2 separate regions of the Homo sapiens genome follow, and region 1 is linked to region 2. The links come from fine-mapping of genetic effects on gene expression. A gene starts in region 2. The other region holds a variant in brackets. All regions are shown on one strand. Distances are between the middles of the regions. Region 1 overlaps DPP3 (dipeptidyl peptidase 3). Region 2 holds the start of CTSW (cathepsin W).

The links. PIP is the estimated chance that this variant, and not a neighbour inherited with it, causes the effect.
Region 1: its variant is the best candidate, but not a certain one, in a credible set for the expression of CTSW in whole blood (INTERVAL, PIP 0.50).

Annotation. Positions count from the first base shown.
Region 1 is chr11:66,506,278-66,510,629 of GRCh38, reverse strand. It overlaps DPP3 (dipeptidyl peptidase 3), which reads right to left. Exons shown (of 18, transcript NM_130443.4): 18 at 973-1,551. The coding sequence ends at 1,379. Among named protein-coding and RNA genes, the nearest start is that of BBS1, 2.2 kb to the left of the region's middle. RefSeq lists an enhancer at 84-133. The variant C/T (reference allele first, on the strand shown) is at 1,525.
Region 2 is chr11:65,878,111-65,882,493 of GRCh38, reverse strand. It overlaps CTSW (cathepsin W), which reads right to left and starts at 2,657. Exons shown (of 10, transcript NM_001335.4): 1 at 2,553-2,657; 2 at 2,208-2,292; 3 at 974-1,087; 4 at 165-319; 5 at 1-64. The coding sequence starts at 2,639.

The DNA of each region.
Region 1 (4,352 bases), 630 kb before region 2:
CGCCCTCGCGTAACGCCCAATAGTGCCCGAGCACAGGGAAGGGCGAGTACAAAGGTTCCGGGCGCCAAGCTTTCCCACCCAGGCTCAGGAGGACGCGCTGGCCACCTTCCTGGGTTGAGGAATCTGTCTCAGATTCCTCAAAGATATTTATCTTTGCTCCTTCCCAGTCAGAGCCACCTTTCCAGGCGTCTGGGTCCTACAATCTCTGGGTCAGCCACAGAGCCCTCTGGCTTCCAGGGTTGGAAAGAAGCCCCTTCTAGCATTTATGAGCAGCAAAAAGAACTCCTCCTGTCTCCATCTTCATGGTTACCCGGTTGAAAAGGACCATGTCCTGCCTTGCTGCGTTACTGTAGAGGTCCAGGCCCAGAGAAACAAAACACGAGGGTTATGGGACAAATGCAGAGGATTCTGACTGAAGTTGAGTTTGTAGGTTCCCAGAACTTTTTTTTTTTTTTTTTTTTTTTGAGACGTAGTCTCGCTCTGTCGCTTGCGCTGGAGCGCAGTAGCGCGATTTCGGCTCACCGCAACCTCCGCCTCCCGGGTTCCAGGGATTCTCCTGCCTCAGCCTCCCGAGTAGCTGGGATTACAGGCGCATGCCACCATGCCCAGCTACTTTATTTTTTAGTAGAGACGAGGTTTCACCATATTGGCCAAGCCGGTCTCGAACTCCTGACCTCGTGATCCCCTCGCCTCGGCCTCCCAAAGTGCTGGGATTACAGGCATGAGCCACCGTGCCCGGCCCCAGAACATTTAAAAATGCAAGGAATGCCACAAAGGAGAGCTGCAAAAATTGTGCTATGTTCAGCTCTGTGACTGCGTATCCTCATCTAGAGATAATGTCAACATCCTGTTGTGGAAGGGAGGCTAAAAATGGCCCTCCTTGCCCCCTCCCCAGGCCTTGAGCCCATCACTCTGCTGGGAGTAAATGAGAAGACAGGCAAAGGCAAGGAGGAGCCACACACGCCGCAAAGATGGTGGTTGTCTCTAATATTTATTTGTCTGGTTATAAAATTAATATGTGAGGAGCATTGGATTTGGTGAGAACGTTTTGAACCCTAGCTGTCACGTGCCACCTGCGGGATCTAGACCAGTGACTTCTCAGAACTGCCATTTCCTCATCTGGTAGACAGGATGGTAAGCCCTGTCTTGCTCACTCCACGTATGGCAGTGCAGATGAAATGAGATCACAGAGGGGAAGCAATTGGCAGGCTGGAAAGTGCTGACAAATGGAAGGGGTTGTGTCACCACCCTCAGCTGAGGTAGTACCAAGGTCCAAGCTCCTGCCCCTCCCCCTCCCCAGCCCCTAAATACACACACGAATGGAGGGCCACTTGCAGCCTTGGTCTGATGGAATTGGGGGCAAGGCCACACATCTTCCTCAAGCTTGGCCAGATGGGGCCTCACTGGGGCCCTTCCAGAATCGGGCATCGGCTGTGGCCAGCTGTGTGAGGATCTCCTCCAACTCGGGTCCATCCTCTGGGAAACGCTCAGAGAAGGATCGGATGAGGCCAGCAGCTGACGCCT[C/T]GTATTCCAGAAGCTGCACGTCTGAGCCTGGGGAGGAGATGGAGAGAAAACAGCAGGGAAAGGTCTGAATAGGGAAACTGAATCATCATAAAAATCTTAATAATCACAATTACAGCAGCAGCTGTTTCTTACTGAGCTCTGCCAAAAAAACCTGTGCTCTACGTTTTAGGTTAATTACTTAATTTACTCTTTACAGTAACCCTGTGAGGAAGGAAATACTACAGGGGGAGTATTAAATGCATTGCTGCTTTCGTTCATTCAGTCAATCAAATAAAGATTTAGGCTGGGCATGGTGGCTCATGCCTGTAATCCTAGCACCTTGGTAGGCTGAGGTGGGAGGATCACCTGAGGTCAGGAGTTTGAGACCAGCTTGGCCAACATGATGAAACACTGTTTATACTAAACATACAAAAAAATTAGCTGGGCGTGGTGGCATGAGCCTGTAGTCCCAGCTACTCGGGAGGCTGAGGCTGGAGAATTGCTTGAACCCGGGTGGCAGAGGTTGCGGTGAGCAGAGATCGTGCCACTGCACTCCAGCCTGGGTGACAGTGAGATTCCACCTCAAAATAAATAAATAAATAAATAAATAATAAAAGACACCAGGTGCCACACTAGGTGAAACAGATACAGTCCTTGGTGTCCTGAAGCTCACAATTCAGCAACGACTTCATCTGTCTACTGTGGGACCTGGGGCAAGTGTTGCAACCTCCCAAGCTTCAGTCTCCTCATCTGTAAAGGAGCTGCAGTGATGACATAGTCACACATCGAGGGGGTGCTCAACAAATGCTAGCCACCATGGCATCATTATCTCCGAACCTGTTTACTGATTTATTAAATGGGCTGTTCTGAGGGTCCCCTGAATACCCCCGGGAAGCACTGCCCTCAAACACACTTCAACTGCTCTACCCTCTCTGTGCACCTTGTCGTGTTCCATGACATCACAAGCTGCACAGCAGCAAAGAGCACAAGCTCTGGAGTTCAAGTTCTGGCTCTGCCACCCAACAGCTTTGTGACCGCAGGCAAATACACAGCCCCTCTGTGCCTCATTTTCCAGATGAAAAATGAGGATAATAACCATTTCTCTCTGGGTTGTTAGGAGTTAAGCCATAGAAAGCTTTTACAGCGACCTGGCTGGGTGTGGTGGCTCACACCTGTAATGCCAGCACTTTGGGAGGCTGAGGCGGGTGGATCACTTGAGGTCAGGAGTTCGAGATTAGCCTGGCCAACATGGTGAAACCCCATCTCTACTAAAAATACAAAATTAGCTGGGCATGGTGGTGGGTGCCTCTAATCCCAGCTTTTTGGGAGGCTGAGGCCGGAGAATCATTTGACTCCGGAGGTGGAGGTTGCAGTGAGCCGAGATCTCACCACTGCCTGCGGGACAGAGTGAGACTCCACCTCAAAAAAAAAAAAAAAAACTTTTTACAGTGCACCACCATCACAACCTTTGAAAATCCAACCTGTTCTTCAGATCTAGTGGGAACCACCCCTTCCTCCCCAGAACGTTCCCGGATACTCTTGAAGATGGATGCGATCTTCCCTCCTCTAAGTGTTCAGAGTTCTGTTTATATGTTTTGGCCACTCATTAACACTTCCCTTGTATGATTATGATGATGATTATTATTATTATTTTTTTTTTTAGATGGAGTCTCGCTCTGTCACCCAGGCTGGAGTGCAGTGACGCAATCTTGGCTCACTGCAAGCTCCGCCTCCCGGGTTCAGGTCATTCTCCTGCCTCAGTCTCCTGAGTAGCTGGGACTACAGGCGCCTGCAACCATGCCTGGCTAATTTTTTGTATTTTTAGTAGAGACGGGGTTTCACCGTGTTAGCCAGGACGGTCTCGATCTCCTGACCTTGTGATCCACCTGCCTCAGCCTCCCAAAGTGCTGGGATTACAGGTGTGAGTCACCGCGCCCGGCCCCCTTGTATGATTATTTATCTCCATATCTTATCATCCCCAGTGAGCTGTGATCACCTCCGGATCCCTAGTGGCTCCCCCATGGCTCGCACAGGGCTGGACATATCAAAGCAATTGAGAGTATTGTCCATGTGGCTGGCATGATTTATTAATGCACTCATTTGACAGTCACTGAGCAACTCCAGTGTGCCAGGCTGTGCATGAGGCACTGGGGTATGCTGCTCCTCCCATCATGAGAAGTGACCACCAAGAAAATGGGCAAGCGTGATGGGCGCTAGAAGAAAATGAAACTGGGTAGCAGAACAGAGAGGGACCGAAGCAGTTACTTTAGGTGGAGGGGTCAGAGACAACCTCTCTCACAGGGTGCCGTTTTACAAGGAGCGGAAGGACAAAAAGAACCAGACAGGCAAAGATCTGGAGGAAGATCATGCCAAGCAGCAAGAACAGCTTATTCAAAGGCTGTAGGAGTGGACCCAGCTCAGTGGGTAGAAGAAACAGAAAGGTCGGGAGACTGGAGTACAGTGAGCCAGAGAAGGGGTGGTGAGGCTGGCAAGGGTTGGGGCCAAATCCCAGGAAGCCTCTGGAGAGCATGGAAAAGCATCTAGAATGAGCGTCTTAATAAATGCTTTTTCCGGCTGGGCATGGTGGCTCACGCCTGTAATCCCAGCACTTTGGGAGGCCGAGGAGGGTGGATCACCTGAGGTCAGGAGTTCGAGACCAGCCTGGCCAACATGGCAAAACCCTGTCTCTACTAAAAATACAAAAATTAGCCGGGCATGGCGGCACGCGCCTGTAATCCCAGCTACTCAGGAAGCTGAGGCAGGAGAATCGCTTGAACCCGGGAGGCAGAGATTGCAGTGGGCCAAGATCGAGCCACTGCACTCCAGCCTGGGCAACAAGAGGGAAACTC
Region 2 (4,383 bases):
TGATGCGCCACAGGGTCTCTATGTTGCCTGCCGCTGCCATGGCCCAGCAGCAGTTGCAGTTTTTCTGGAGGGCGAGAGGGTGGGGCGGGGCTAGGTGTTCGGGCCGTGCCCCTCTCCCTCCCACCACTTAGCTGAATTAGAGCCAGCTGGGTAGCGGCAGATACCTGGTCCTTGATGGGTGAGATGGCGCTGGCCACCTTCCGCCAGTCACAGCTGAAAGGTACTGACTCCTCTGGCTCTTCAGACCTTATTTCTCTGCCCATGCTGGGGACCCCTCCAGCTGCCCTCCGATAGCCATAGAGCTGGCCAAACTCCTCCTCTGGGGAACAGACAGGGCCACTGAGGTCTCCATTTTGACCCCTTCTCCCTGTTCTGCCTCTCCCACTCCAGCTGTTGGTCCCATAATTCCCTGAGGGGCAAAAAGGCAAGGATAGGCCGGGCGTGGTGGCTCACACCTATAATCCCAGCACTTTGGGAGGCCAAGGTGGGTGGATCACTTGAGGTCAGGAGTCCGAGACCCCATCTCCACAAAAAGTAGAAAAATTAGCTGGGCGTGGTTGTGCGGGCTTGTAGCCCCAGCTACTTAGAAGGCTGAGGGGTCGGGGGAATTGCTTGAGTCTAGGAGGTGGAGGCTGAGTGAGCTGTGATTGCACTATTGTACTGCAGCCTGGACAACAGAGCAAGACCCTGTCTCAAAAAGGCAAGGGTGCCAAGCCTAGAGAGGCTGGGCTCCCTGCTGGGTGCTTCCCTGCAGCTGCTGCGCTGGCCCCTAGGCTGGATTAGGACACAGGACTGCAGAGATTCTGCCCCTGCACTGGGTGATTTGATACCAGCACCCAAGCCCCTGGTCCTCAGGGAAATGAATTTCCTTCCCTGGGAAGTAAAAATTGAAGGTCCGCTGGGTCCAGCTGCCAGTGTCCCTGGGGAGATCGCTTCCCAACCACCACCTACGAGCCAGAAGGGTTAATGGTACCTGTGAGGTCACTGAATGGAGTCACCCCAAACTCAGCTGTGCCCAAGTCCTCCTCCTGCAGCCTCTGAGCCTGGGCCAGGTTGTGGGCAAAGATGTCCAGGCGGTGAGCATGCTCTGGACCAAAAGGGAGTTGTCCTAGGCTGACTCCCAAGCCCTTAGGGGCAGGAAGTAGCCGCTGGCTGGGCACCCTTCCACCCACACCCACCCAGTTGAGCACTGGCTCCTTTCCTGTAGCCCCCACAAGGCCCCACTGCAGATACCCAGGCCCAGGAAGTGGTTACCCAGCCCACCGAGGGTTGGGTTTTCCCCAGAGGCAGCCAGAGGACCATCTCTGGCCACCCTAGGTGGGAAGCCAGGCAAGGGGTCCGGTGGTGGTGACTCAAGGATGTGTGGCTGGAGACCAGCTTCCTGCCAGGCCACGTCCTTTACACCTCTGACCACAGGAGGAGAGCTGGAACATGGCAGGGAGAGGAGATGACAAGGCACAGGCAGTCTGGGCTAAAAGGCACACACAGATCAGCCCCCTAGAGAGATCAGCACAGCGAGAGGGCAGGGGCAGGGGTTAGATCATGGGCTAGAGAAGAAGTCCCCAATGTGGGGACAAAATGGGTGTCCTTGGGTGTTTGCTGAATGAGCAAATGACTAGGTGGTGGCCCCCTGTCCACTGCCTAGAATCGCAGGGAAGTGGCTGTGGAGCCAGGGGATCACGTAGGACTAGGGCAGGACCCCACCTCCTGCCACTGCCCTCCAGATCCATAGCAAAGAATGATCCTGGACCCACTCATGCCTTCGGGAAACCAGGGAACACACCCCCAGCCCTGGCCTGTCCTGCTGAGTGGCCTTGGCCATGCCTGTTCCCCACCCTGAGCTTCGATTTCTTCATCTATTACAAAGCGGGATGGCTGGGCTCCGTGGCTTACACCTGTAATCCCAGCCCTTTGGGAGGCCGAGGCAGGCGGATCACCTGATGTCAGGAGTTCAAGACCAGCCTGGCCAACATGGTCAAACCCCATCTCTACTAAAAATGTAAAGGTTAGCCAAGTGTGGTGGCGCATGCCTGTAATCCCAGCTACTCAGAGGCTGAAGCAGGAGAATCGCTTGAACCCGGGAGGTGGAGGTTGCAGTGAGCCAAGATGACACCATTGCACTCCAGCCTGGTCAACAAGAGTGAAACTCCGTCTCAAAAAAAAAAAAAGTGGGGGCTTGGACTGGAGATGTATGTGCCCTGTGATACCTTCTGGGCTCAGGTAACTCCGGTTGAACTGGATCTGGAACAACTTGAAGGCCTCTTTCAGCTCTAGCGGCTGGGGACCTAGGTCCTGGCAAGGAACCAAGGGTGGAGAGGGGCAGTGGGCAGAGGAATCATTGCTGGGGCCCCACCTTAGTTCCCAGCCGTGCAAGGACTGGGCTAGGGGTCAGCCAGTTAGCCTTTTCTGTCTTCCCATGTGCCCTTGGGCACGTCAGCCCCCTCTCCAGCCTCAGCAACTCCCTCTGAAAAATGAGAATGACAGGCCAGCTGTTTCTGAAGGGGTGACCCCAGGCGTGGGACTGGCATAGGTAAGGGTTTGGGAGCACTTACCTGGGCCCTAAGGGGGCCTCTGATGCCTTGGGCTAGGCCTGCCACCAACAGGGCCAGGAGGCAGGAGGGGTGGGCAGTCAGTGCCATGCCGGTGCAGTCTGGAGTGGCATGGAGGCAGGAAGCCGCGCAGATCGAGGAGGACGGTGTGAGGGTGGGGCTGGAGAAACCACGAAGGGGAAGACAGGCTTGGTGGGTGGAGGGTGGACCCCTAGAACCCACAAGTTGCTCAGGCCTTCAGGCTTTCAGTCCCTGCCTGTCTGCTCCCCATCCCACCCCTTTTTCTTTCTTTCTTTCTTTCTTTTTTTTTTCCACCCAGGTTGGAGTGCAGTGGCATGATCTCGGCTCACTGCAACCTCCACCTCCCGGGTTCAAGCAATTCTCCTGCCTCAGCCTCCCGACTAGCTGGGACTACAGGCATGCACCACCATGCCCAGCGAATTTTTTGTATTTTCAGTAGAGACAGCATTTCACCATGTTGGTCAGGCTGGTCTCCAACTCCTGACCTCAGGTGATCCACCTGCCTCAGCCTCCCAAAGTGCTGGGATAACAGGCATGAGCCACTGCGCCCAGCCAAGGGAACCACTCTTGCTCATCCTATGAAGCTCAGTCAGCTCAATGGCCGCCTCTTTCAAGAAGCCTTCCCTGCTTCCCCAACCTCTGGTAGAAGCTTTGCAGCCCCTTCAGCCCAGCTGCACCTGTGCCCATTGGGCATCTGCCTCCAACCACACCAGAAGTGTTCAGTTCGCTTGTGTCCTCGGTGTCCTCGGTTCCCAGGATAGGGCTAGGCATGAGTCAGGCTCGCTAGGTGTTTGTTGACTGAACAATTGATCATCATGAGTTTTAAACAGGAAAGCAGGCCGGGCATAATGGCTCATGCCTGTAATCTCATCACTTTGGGAGGCCAAGGTAGGAGAATCATTTGAGCTCAGGAGTTGGAGACAAACTTGGACAACTGAGCAAGGCTTCATCTCTACTTAAAAAAAAAAAAGTTAGCCAAGCATGGTGGTGCTCTCCTGTAGTCCCAGCTACTGGGGAGGCTGAGGCCAGTGGGATTGCTTGAGCCTGGAAGATTAAGGCTGCAGTGAGCTATGATCATGCCTCTGCACTCCAGCGTGGGTCCAAGATCCTGTGTCAAAAAAACAAAACCAGGCCAGGCACGGTGGCTCACGCTTGTAATCCCAGCACTTTGGGAGGCCGAGGCGGGTGGATCACCTGAGGTCAGGAGTTGGAGACCAGCCTGGCCAACATGGTGAAACCCTGTCTCTACTAAAAATACAAAAAAGCAGCTGGGCATGGTGGCGGGCGCCTATAATCCCAGTTACTCGGGAGGCTGAGGCACAAGAATCACTTGAACCTGAGAGGTGGAGGTTGCAGTGAGCCGAGATCGCACCATTACACTCCAGCCTGGGCAACAAAAGTGAAACTCCATCTCAAAAAACAAAACAAAACAGGAAAGCGCAGAGTCAGAGTCCGGGAGCAGCAACTGCAGCCAGTGCCTCCCGTTCCTCATCCCTCCCACGGTCTAGGGATGAGGATGAGGGGGCTGAAGAGCCAGAAGGATAACAGGGTGAGCATCACAGACGGAGGGAGGCCAAAGCCTGACTTGTGAGGTCAAGGGCTGGGCAGCAGCATTAACACCCGTTACTGCTGCCTTTGTTCTAAGTGGGTCCTTGGGCTGGGGACCTCCCCTATAGGAGTTCAGGCTGAGAACTGGTGACCAAGACCAGAGAAGGGTGTGAAGAGCTGGCTTTCTAGGGTTCCATGGGGTGGGAGACAGGACAGCTATAATCCTGGGATTTATTCACTTACATGCTCACTACTGCGTTTCTTT